Linked DNA regions of Homo sapiens: region 2 is linked to region 1. The links come from fine-mapping of genetic effects on gene expression. A gene starts in region 1. The other region holds a variant in brackets. All regions are shown on one strand. Distances are between the middles of the regions.

What was found. PIP is the estimated chance that this variant, and not a neighbour inherited with it, causes the effect.
Region 2: its variant is the best candidate, but not a certain one, in a credible set for the expression of APMAP in whole blood (TOPMed, PIP 0.83).

The regions. Positions count from the first base shown.
Region 1 is chr20:24,989,585-24,994,955 of GRCh38, reverse strand. It overlaps APMAP (adipocyte plasma membrane associated protein), which reads left to right and starts at 2,205. Exons shown (of 9, transcript NM_020531.3): 1 at 2,205-2,362. The coding sequence starts at 2,268. RefSeq lists enhancers at 1,651-2,151, 2,064-2,303, 2,434-2,513, 2,534-2,593, 2,152-2,652.
Region 2 is chr20:24,952,657-24,958,027 of GRCh38, reverse strand. CST7 (cystatin F) reads right to left here. Exons shown (of 4, transcript NM_003650.4): 2 at 569-741. Among named protein-coding and RNA genes, the nearest start is that of CST7, 6.1 kb to the right of the region's middle. RefSeq lists an enhancer at 2,651-2,780. The variant A/C (reference allele first, on the strand shown) is at 2,838.

The sequences.
Region 1 (5,371 bases):
CCTCCGCCTCCTAACAGAATTATCTGGCCCAAAATATCAGTGGTGCTGAGAAACCTGATCAAATTAATCATAGTGGTCCCATTCCTCTGCCAACAACTGGCATCAGCACGATGAGAAACAAAGTCGGTCTGGTTGGAAGGTGGGGTGGGAGAACTGATAACTGAAACAAATACAACAAGCAAAGCGTGCTTCACCGTGACTTGAAAACAGAAAAACTGTACTGAACCCGTGCTATGCAGCACAAATGATCTAGCTCAGACCACTGTAACACCAACTACCTACGTGCTTCATGATAAGCCCACGAGCTGACCTCCTGATAACTCCGAATGGACTTACATGTCCCAGAGCTAAGGCCACGGTTCCTCCAGTGACTCCCGTTGTTAACGGATTCTGACCAACCCTGGGCAAGACTATCGATGGACTAACTCCAGCCCCCAAACCCCACAAGGAGTCTCCCATGACTCCCCCATTTTGAGGAACCTCACCGGTCCTCTGGTGCATTTCTTTGCTGCAGCAAGTTCAGTAAACCCAACTTACTGCCATTATTTTTCTTCTGAATGTGTCCCTGGGTGTTTGCAGTGCGTGGGCTTTAACACTGGGCATGGAACACAAATAGCTCCAATGCAGTGAGTTCAATGTTATGGCTGGGACATGTTTAAAGTGCCTTGAAGACAAAGAGGAAGATGTTCTGCTTGGGAAACTGGGAGAAGAATTTTCAGCAAGGATACTTGAAGTGGGTCCTGAATGATAAAAATAATTGGCCAAGTGGAGGTGAAGGAGAGTGTATCACAGGAAGAAGGAACCTCAAGGACAAAGGCAGCCAGGCATGAGATTAGACATGTTAAGCCATCCTGAATGTCTGAAATGGGGGGTGGGGAGCAAGAGGGATAGTCCAGACAGGCAGGAAGGCGTGAGATCATACAGTACTTTGTTAACACTATCCCTGATTTAATAGCTGTATTGGCTATTCTCAATGACACAGAATGAAGTAAAATGTTGTCGAGGCCTGAATTATTACCTGGGATCTCTGGAGAACTGGATTTGCACAGCTCTCCACTTCCCTCAAGCTGGTTCTTCCGCTCTTTGAATGAATAAATAAAAAGCATTCACATGGAATTCTAGTGCCATCTAGCATTTAAAAAGGTAAAAGCCTCCAAGAGGAAATTATTTCTTAACACTGCATTTTGAACATGGCTTTTCCAGAGATAATTCCTCGTGCCACTGGTAACGGGCTTTGATTTCTTCTGCCTGTCACTTCCTCCAGATTCGATTCCTCTTTGAATCTCAAATGCTCTCACAAGATTCAGCTCTTCCCTTTTGAAGCAATTATTACGTTTGATAATTTTACGTCTATTTTATGATGATGATCTGATTAAAGTCATCTTTCCCACTAGTTTAATTTCTATAAGGAGGGGCCTTGTCTGTGATTTGCCCACCATCGTCTCCCAGCACCTGGGAACATTTCTGGTTTCCTGCAATACTGTTGAAAGAACAATGCCTCTCTATGCTTTCTTAAACTTTGTTAGTGATAATTTCTACTTCTACCTGGACTTTACTTAAGGGTAATCCTTAATAAACTTTATCAAAACTTAATAAACTTTATCAAAACTTAATAAACTTTATCAAATGTCTGTTGTAATCGTCACAAAAAGATTTAATACTCAACATCTGGCCTTAACCAGAGGGAAACATTTTCTAGCCCAAGTTTTCCCCTTAACCGGCTGAGTCGGGGAAGGATGTAATTTTCAGGCAGAGGTGACTTCGTTCCAAGGGTGTGAATGCATTATTTTTGACGCTGCCTGTAAGAGCAGGGTCGCTGACACTGAATAAACAGCGCTATCCTCTCCAACGATAAAAGTGGCCAACATCTCGTGCTAGCAATTCCCAAGTGCGTCATGAGCATCCCCGTCCTCAGAAACGTGAGACGAAGGCGGCATGCGCAGGCACTGGGCTAGACGAGCCCGAGGTTGAACCACTCGCGTTCTGGGCCCCGGAGTCCGAGACAGGCGGGGACCCCGGCAGCTCCCGGTGCTATCTCTGAGCGGGTTCCGAGCCCCACTTCCGGGCGGTCAGAATTAGCCTCAGAGCGCCGAGCAACGACGCGCCGGGGACCTCCCGCCCATGAGGCCGGAAGGGGCGGGGAGAACGCTGCGGAATGGTCCCTGGGCGCAACGTCATTTCCGCGTACGGGGGAGGGCGGGCCTGGAGTCTGAGCCGGCGCCGCTCAGTGTGAGGTGGTTTCTGCGGGTGAGGCTGGCGCCCGTACCATGAGCGAGGCGGACGGGCTGCGACAGCGCCGGCCCCTGCGGCCGCAGGTCGTCACAGACGATGATGGCCAGGCCCCGGAGGCTAAGGACGGCAGGTAGGGCGGACTCCCAGACTGGGCGCTGGAGCCGGGCCGCTAGGAGTGGAGGGCGACCCTCTTGGACAGCGGCGACGGCAGTAACAGTAACCTGGGGATGCGGTGCCGAGCGCGTTGTCAGAGTCCTCTCGTTTCATCCCCAAGAAAAACTCATTTTTCCGAGGAAGCAGGCTCCGACAAGGCGGATGTACCTGCCAGGTCTTTCAGGTTCGGGTGCACCCTGCGCCCAGTCGCCGCGTTGTCCTCGGCTCTCCGGACCCGAGACCGCCTCGCGCCGCTCCTTTGCCTTCCCTCCCTCACTCCTGCCCCACCCTGCATAGCGGTTGCTTCCTCGCCTTTCCCTCGCTCCCCTCGCGCTGTCCTTCCTTTGGCTTAAATGATCCCCCTGAGCACAGCTACTTGGCCGGGGCCCTGCGTGTTCCTGGTTCCCCGCTCGCAATTTCCCGAAGGGAGGAGGTCCCACGAGATGCTGGGGTCCTGCCTCGTTATCCGGCGAAGAGATGGCTTCTACACTTGCTCTTCTGCACCTGCCCCCCTCACGCTGCGTGACCAGTCCTCACCGCGGTTCTTGGAAAGAGTGGAGAACAGTAGTGACATTGTAGGCAATTTTTGTGAGAATTCAGCCTGGCAGTTTTTCCTGATAGGGATGGAGAAACATAGGAAACTGTAGTTGTTGACACCTAAGAAATATCAGGTTTTGCCCTTTGCCTCCTCTCCCATCTTTCAGAATATAAGAATGCTGTGTTTTGTTAGCTAAAAACTGAATCATGATTCGTAAGCATAGATTTCAATATAAGATACTTAAAATTCACTTTTCAATTCTGTGTCCTGAATTTCATAACTTTTAAGTTTCAGGGAGAATCAAGAGGCCCCATAGACCAAGCTTGAAGTTGTGGGACTGATTGACTTATATTTGATAGAAATACTGGAAATATTTGTTCATCAGTAGTGTGCCAAGAGGTGGTGGGGTACATATGAATGAGAGGCAGTTTTTGCCCCTGTAGACTGAGTTTATTGACTGATGATAAGAGGAACACATTTGAAGGAGAGCGATGGCAGGAAGGAGCATTTAGGCTCTAGAGAGGCAATTTAGAGAGAAGACTTTGCGGTGATAGTTGACTCCTTGGGCCAGTGAAAAGATCGGGAAGATGCTCCCATATATCCTGACCAACCATCCTGCGTTGCCCTGGACTGGGGTTTCCAAGGATGTAGAACTTTCAGTGCTAAACCTGGGCAAACTGGGACAATCTGATCACCCTACTTACTGTGAATATTGTGAATTAATCATCTGTTGATGATTGAGGAGCCATTTAGAATGGACATGCAAGAATTGGCAACACTTTCCTACAGAAATCTTGAAAACAAGGCATTTTTACCTGAGAAATGGAAGAGCAGTGGCCTGAGTTTGTCATTAGGTGCAGTGTGTTGAAAACCAGGGCCTACAGCCCCTGAGGGCACCGGTTAGGTAGTCCCAACTCTCAAGTTGGCTGGCTCACACTTCTGGCCCCAGGGCAAGCAGGCAGACTTAATTGTTTTTTTCAGGTTCTCTGTGGGGATTTCTTCCTTAATGAGTAAGTAAATCTGATTCTAAAGTCATCTTTTACTGCCTGATCTTTTCCAGTGTGCCTTTTACATTTATGTTTACTTATTTCCTTGACTTCCCTGTCCATGAACATTGTTCCTGTTTCCCTGTGTTTGTCCTTCTTGTTTGTTTATCCCTTTTCTGTATATCTGTAATGATCTCTTTCAAAGTGAGGTCTTGTCACCACCCTTCCTTTCCGCAATTATTATTGTAACATGGTAGCTGTTTTTCTTATTTTTCTTCTGCATTTCTCCTATATTTTTCATTTATTTTGTGGTCATTTCTAGTAGTTCATGTAATAGTATTCTTGATTACCTTAAAAGTCGAGGGTTCAACATAAGCCAGGAAAGCCTGTGTATAGTGGGCGAAGTAAAGGAATCTAAATTCAGAAGTAAAAACACGAAACTATTAGAATAAACTTTAGCACTTTAGATGTGCTAAATAGAATAAAGGAAGCCTTGAAAGACATATTACTAAACTGACAGAACTAAGACATAGATTTTAGCAGTGGTAGGGACCCCTAGTAATACGTTGGGTGGTCTCCCAACTCTTGGCACAAAAGGTGGGTGTTTGCTTTGTTTTGCTGATGAGATCATTGAGGTCTATGTGTGTGAGGTGGTTTATATGAAGTTACAGAGAATAGAGTCAAAAGAGAAATGAAAATGAATGAAGAAGGATAGAACTGGCAGCTGGACAATGACTGAGAAGTGTATTTTTAAAATTATGCTTTGGAAATAAGACTTTATGCCAAAGCTCTTGAATTACTGTATTTGAAATATAATGGAGAATTTGGTTGGTAAATTCTTTTATTCAGTGTGGAACATAGATGAGCTAAGTACTTTAACATACCGGTGCAAGCTTATAATTATTATTTGACATTGATTTCCCGAAATGCTTTAGAAACTTAATTGTACTCTGTGGAACTATTCCTTTCTGTTTGAAACACAGTTCTATCTAGGAAGAGAACTGTTTAATGTCCATATGTGACTGTTTAGGGATGCAGAATAAATACATTGAGGATTTAATATGTTTCAATACATTAAATTCTGTATAATTCTCCTTTTTCAATAAACTTCTGAAGGATTTTAGTTTAATTAAAAGTCTGCTAGGTCCATTTTCCTTTTTCCTCTTGGAGACTGAAGAGTAAGGGAGGAAGTATGGAGAAACAGATTGGGCATTCACGAATTCATGAGGAGTAAGGCAGCTGGAGTGTTTGTCTCAGCTTTGCCCCAGGTGTGTATTTTCAGATGGCTTTTTAAACTTGTTTCTTGATTTCTTAATTTTTTTCAAGGATAAATTGATGAATCTAGGAGCCCCAGTTTAAAGGATTGTGAAAAATGAACAAATTCAAGATGCTGTCACTAAAAAAGATGGGTTGATGCTATCTGATTTTCTCAGGTTCCAGGGATCACCTTGACACATGAGGT
Region 2 (5,371 bases), 37 kb after region 1:
TTAGCAAGTGGGTGTTCTCAGGACACAGACAAGGGTCCTCTAGGAGGGAGGGTGCTGAGCGGGCGCAGTAGGAATGAGTCAGGGAAAGGGCAGTGGCTTGGGCAGAGCTCTTGGACTCTGGGATGTGAGTGAGCACTCCAGGGGGAAAGTGGCAAAGACACCTCTGGGCTGCAGGGCACGTGAGGGGTGAGGCCGGGTGAGGACCCTGGTCCCAGCAGGGGCAGCTCCTCGGACAGCGGCTTTCTCCCCCATCAGCCTTGGCGCCTGCCTCAGGAGCCCCATTAGGGCCCTGGCACCTCCTTACCCCATGCCTAGTAGGCTCTGGGCCAGGGGCCTGGTAACCACCCAGGAGCCGTGTGCTTTGTGTAACCTTTGCGCTTGGCCCTGGGGGATGCTGGCCTCAGCTGCTGCTGTCCACTCCCACCCCTTGTGCATCTGCTTTCTGCTCAGAGCTCTGCACTCAGCAGGGACTTCACATTATATCCGCCCTGCTCTCCTAGGTGTCGCGTTGTAGCAGCTCGGCTTCCTAGGGGTGTCCGTGATATGTGACCAGAACCCAGACCGTTACCTGAACTAGGGCCCTTGTGATGCGGGACTCCTTGAACAAGAACATGTCGTTCGTGCAGTTGTTGAACTTTTCAACACTGTATCTGGCTGCTTGGAGGACTCCTGGGTCATTGGTCTTTATTGTTTTAGGAAATCCTGGCTTCACACGTGAGTTAAGGTCCTGGGAACAAGTATCTGAAAGAGACAAAGAGCCAGACAAGAACACTGATGTTAGTGGGGCCTTCAGTCCAGGTGTCACGCCTCATGCCTCTGTGATGCTCAGTTCTCTGCTGGCGTGTGTGTCCTGGCCCTACCCACCCCTCACCTGCTCCCCCTCTTACCTACCCCTGTCACCTGTCCCTGCTTACCTGCCCCCACCCTACCCACCCCTAACCTGCCCCCCTCACCTGCCCCCTCACCTGTTCTCCCTCACCTGCCCCCTCTCACCTGCTCCCCTCACCTGCCCCCCTCACCTGCCCCCTCACCTGTCCCCCCCGACACCCCTGCAGTGCATTTATTGCTCCATTTTCAGAGCTGAGGACCAGGTGCCAGGGGGTGCAATGAACCTGTCCCCCACTTTCAGAACCCAGGGTTATTTCCAACGTAAGTGTTAAAAGCGGAACATGTCCCACAGGTGAGATCCTCAGTACGGGATGTAGCCTTAGGATGTAGGGAAAGTCAACCCCAGCCTGGCCCTCTGGGCGGTAGATGGAGGTAGTGCCTCCCACCGGAAGGAGATGGCGCCGTCCTCGTCTCAAGACCTTTTGCCCGCCTGGCTCTCAGTCTCAGGCCCAGCCCCCAGGAGGGCACCCCTCCTGGCAGCCTGCAGCACTTGGTACCCCTGCGCTGCCTCCTGACTTTCCAGGGACAGTCTTTTTCACTCCTATGAGTGACAGTGCACTGTGTCCCCAAGCTTCGTTGGGGTCGGGGAGGCCTGCCCTTCCTGTACCAAGGAGGGCTATATTTGGATAAAAGATGGGGAAGCAGCATCGGGGGCCTCCCCCACAGTCATGTCCCCTAGTATCTGTGCCTGAGGCTGCAGGACGTGCGTCTTTGTGCCTGCTATGGACTGGATGGAAAGCTGGGCCCCAGGGTGTTGAGGGCAGGGTGATTGGGGAATGGGAGGGGACAGGCTTCATAGCTGGGCACTGCAGGGAGGCCTTGCCAGGACGTCAGTGTCAACTCAGAGCGAGGGCCCCAGAGGAGGCCATTCCCACTGCTGTGTGAGGTCTGCAAGAGGCCTTTCCTGGGTCCTGGATGTCTGTGGGTGCACACCAGACCCCACCAAGGGTAGACAGGATGACGAGGTTTCTGGTCACCACGTGGCACCCCCAGGCTGGGTGGTGCAGCGCCGGGAGTGGGCAGAGAAGCATGGGACTGGAAGTTCTGTGGCCTTGGGATTGTCGCCCCATCCCGGTAAAGAGTCTCCATTGTGAAGGGAGGCCACCTGGCAAATGGCTGTCCCGTGGTTGGTTCTGGGCCAGAAGGTGAGCTTCATGGCTGGGCTTTGGATGACTGTGCCTGCCTTGTGCTTTAGCAGCCCAGGGAGCCTGGCCTTCCATCCCAAAAAAGCAGCGCAGTGCTGGTGCCCCACCCCATAGAGAATGCTGGCCACGTGCTGGTCCTGTGTGCTGGTGGATAGCTGTGTCCTGCGCTGGCATGCCCTGGGACTGTCCTTCACACTAATTAGTGTCACACACATCCCCCCTGAAACTGCTGCAGCCTTTGCTTAAGAAGACTTTAGGTGGCTCACGTCTGTAATCCCAGCACTTTGGGAGGCCGAGGCGGGCAGATCACGAGGTCAGGAGATCGAGGCCATCCTGGCAAACACGGTGAAACCTGGTCTCTACTAAAAATACAAAAAATTAGCTGGACATGGTGGCGGGCACCTGTAGTCCCAGGTACTCGGGAGGATGAGGCAGGAGAATGGCGTGAACCCGGGAGGCGGAGCTTGCAGTGAGCCGAGATCGCGCCACTGCACTCCAGCCTGGGCAACAGAGCGAGACTCCGTCTCAGAAAAAAAAAAAAAAAAAAAGACTTTAGGCCTCTGAAGATGGAATAGAAACCGCTCTGTTCCTGAGCACCAGGGGCTGAGCTTGGCCATCTAGGGGAGGTCCTGGAACCTGCATTTCCCCAGGCTCTCAGGTGACTCTGACACTGGTGTTGGCAGTGAGGGGTCCCTTGGGACCTGCAGTGTTACCATCAGGAAGGAGGGGTCCCCAGAGCCAAAGGCAGCTCCTTCTGGTCCTTGTGCTTGTTGATGACAGGAAGTTGAATGTGGCTTTTAGTTA[A/C]AACAAAAAACTGTTCTGGAAACCAGCTTGGTTTCAGCTCATCACTGTCATCTGAACAGCAGAGAAAGAGACACGTGTATGGAAGGGGTAGCATGTGTTCAGTGTATTTTTGCTGTCAGATTAGCGTTTTTTTTTGTTGTTGTTGTTGTTGTTTTGCTTTCTTTCCTCACATTACATTAATATGGCTGTCCATTGTTTTCTTTGTAAAAACTACATTTTATGGCTTTTTCTGACTATAAACTTACCTATTTTTGGTAGAAATTTGAAAAATACAGAGGAGCATAACAAAAAATAATTATTTTTAATATCTTAAAGCTAACCACTATTAACTTTTTTAAAAAATAAAATGTATTTACTTTTGCTTGAGATTAACAGAATTTTAAAAATGAAGTGAAACTCAGTTTACGCTGAACTTCAAATAAATTTCCCTTCCAAGCTCATGACGTTAGTTCCTAAAAGATTGTGGTAAAGTTACAAAAAGGTTATGAAAAATACTGAAATTGGTATTTTTTATTTAACTACATGTTTCCTAAAATGTAGGCTTCAAGTCAATAAACCTTTCACTGTCTTACAGTTGTCTAAACAGATATTAAAAGCTCAGTTTTTAATTTAAAATTGTTTAAAAGTCAAACCTATTTTTAGGATGATTTGTTTAGAGAAATTAACAAGGAAATGTTGATCATTAAGAATTAACACCCCAAAGAGGCCACTCATCTTCAGGGAAGAAAACAAGCAGTCCAGCAGGTGGTGAGCGAATGCAGCTCTTTGAGAGCCTCCGATGGAGTCAAGGAACTGTGAAGAGGACCCCCCAGGGAGGGGGCTCTGGGTTTGCTCCGTGCAACTGAAGGCAGGGAGCGGGAGAATGGGTGCTCTCCTCCTCTGCCTGCTCTGTCTGGAGGGCCCTGCGATGCTGTTTCTTCTCATGTGTGCCCATTCTGCAGGCGAGGAGACCAAGAGCTTGGAGTGCAGGGTGGGGGGCTAAACCCAGGTGTGACTAATTCGAAACACCACTCTCACTTTTTCCTCATTCAAGACGGACTGTTTGGCAGGTGCTAGGGGAGATGCAGGGTGGACTCTAAGACAGGCCCCGCCCACAGTGGTGGGGAGGCAGAGCAGGCCTGGGGCACAGGAGAGGACACCAACCTGAGGGTAAAATGGGTGAGCAGAGGGGCAGGGGATGGGGGAGCAGCTGCAAGGTGGCTGAACTGGCCTAGGGGAGGAGGGAGCTACGTGCTGGGAAGAGTTGGGGAGACCCCGCTGGAGGCTGCTGCTGGGTGCAGAGGGTGATGGTGGTGATGGCCGCGATGACGTCAACGGAAAGAACCCACGGACCGTCAGGCTTGTGAGAAGAAACAAAAGGCACATAAAATCCGTCTGTATAGAAACAATGCCTGGGGCAGGCCAGGCCTGCTCGAGGGGAATGGGGGACCTGCCATGTGCGAGGCTCGCACCAGGAGCCTGCCGGGGCAGCCTGACCCCAGCCCACCACTGCTTCTAATGCGGGGTGGGAGGGGAGGTGGGCCATGCCTGAGACAGGTAGGGAGCTTCCAGACGTAGAAGCTGGAGGTGAGGCAGGGGCGGGCAGGGCCTGATGATACCAGGTGCTGAGCAGGCCCCAGGACACATGGTCACAGGAAGGCAAATGAAACTGTCCCCTAAGGTTGACAAGAATTGCATGCCAGGTTCTGGACAGAAAGATACTCATAATTAAGCTTGAATCAGGCTGCTGCTGGCCCAAGATGTTTTTCAGATCCCAATTCCAGCAACCAGTTTGGAAACCCCCCACGGAGGAACAGGATCATCACGAAAATACAGCTTCTTCCTCTCCCTGTGCTGTGACATCACGCTGCCCCTTCCAGCTATCGAGCTCCAGAACCCTTAAAAACCCGGGCCCCAGCCTCCTCGGGGAGATGGATTTGAGTTTCCTCCATCTCCTTGTCTGGTGATCCTGCGATCACCCTGCTTTTCTGCTGCAGCCCCGTGTTTCTGAGCATCTACTGGCTGTGTGCATGGGGCAAAGTCCTGTCCGGGTGCCCGAGGACCAGTGTGCAATGGGGTGCAGATGTGAAGCTGCCAGGCCAGGGGAGTTGCCAGGGCCTCTGCCCAAGGCAGCAGGGAGCTGCAGTTTCTGACAGCTGCTGGGCATGCCCTGGGCAGGGTACGTTCCTGTCCTCAGAGCATAGGCCCAGTGGCAGAGCTGGCACTAAGCCAACCTGAGGAGAGAAAACATGGGCAGGGATCGCTGTGGTGGCACCAGGCAGACCCTTCCCACCTGCCTTTAGTAGGAAAATGGGTGGGCACAGCGGGGGCTGGCATTGCCCACCTCCTCCCTCTTTCAGGAGTGTTCTAGGTGTGGCCGGGAGGTTGGGAAGCCCCTGCTTGTGAAACCATCCCTGAGATGGGGACCTGGGTGCCGAGAGCTGGACGCAGATGGTCCCTGCTGGTGTCCCTCCCTGTGTCACCTCAGGGGGTGCCCTTTCCATGGGCCAGTACTGAGCTGGGTGGGGAGACCCTTTGAGAGGGGCCCCATCGGC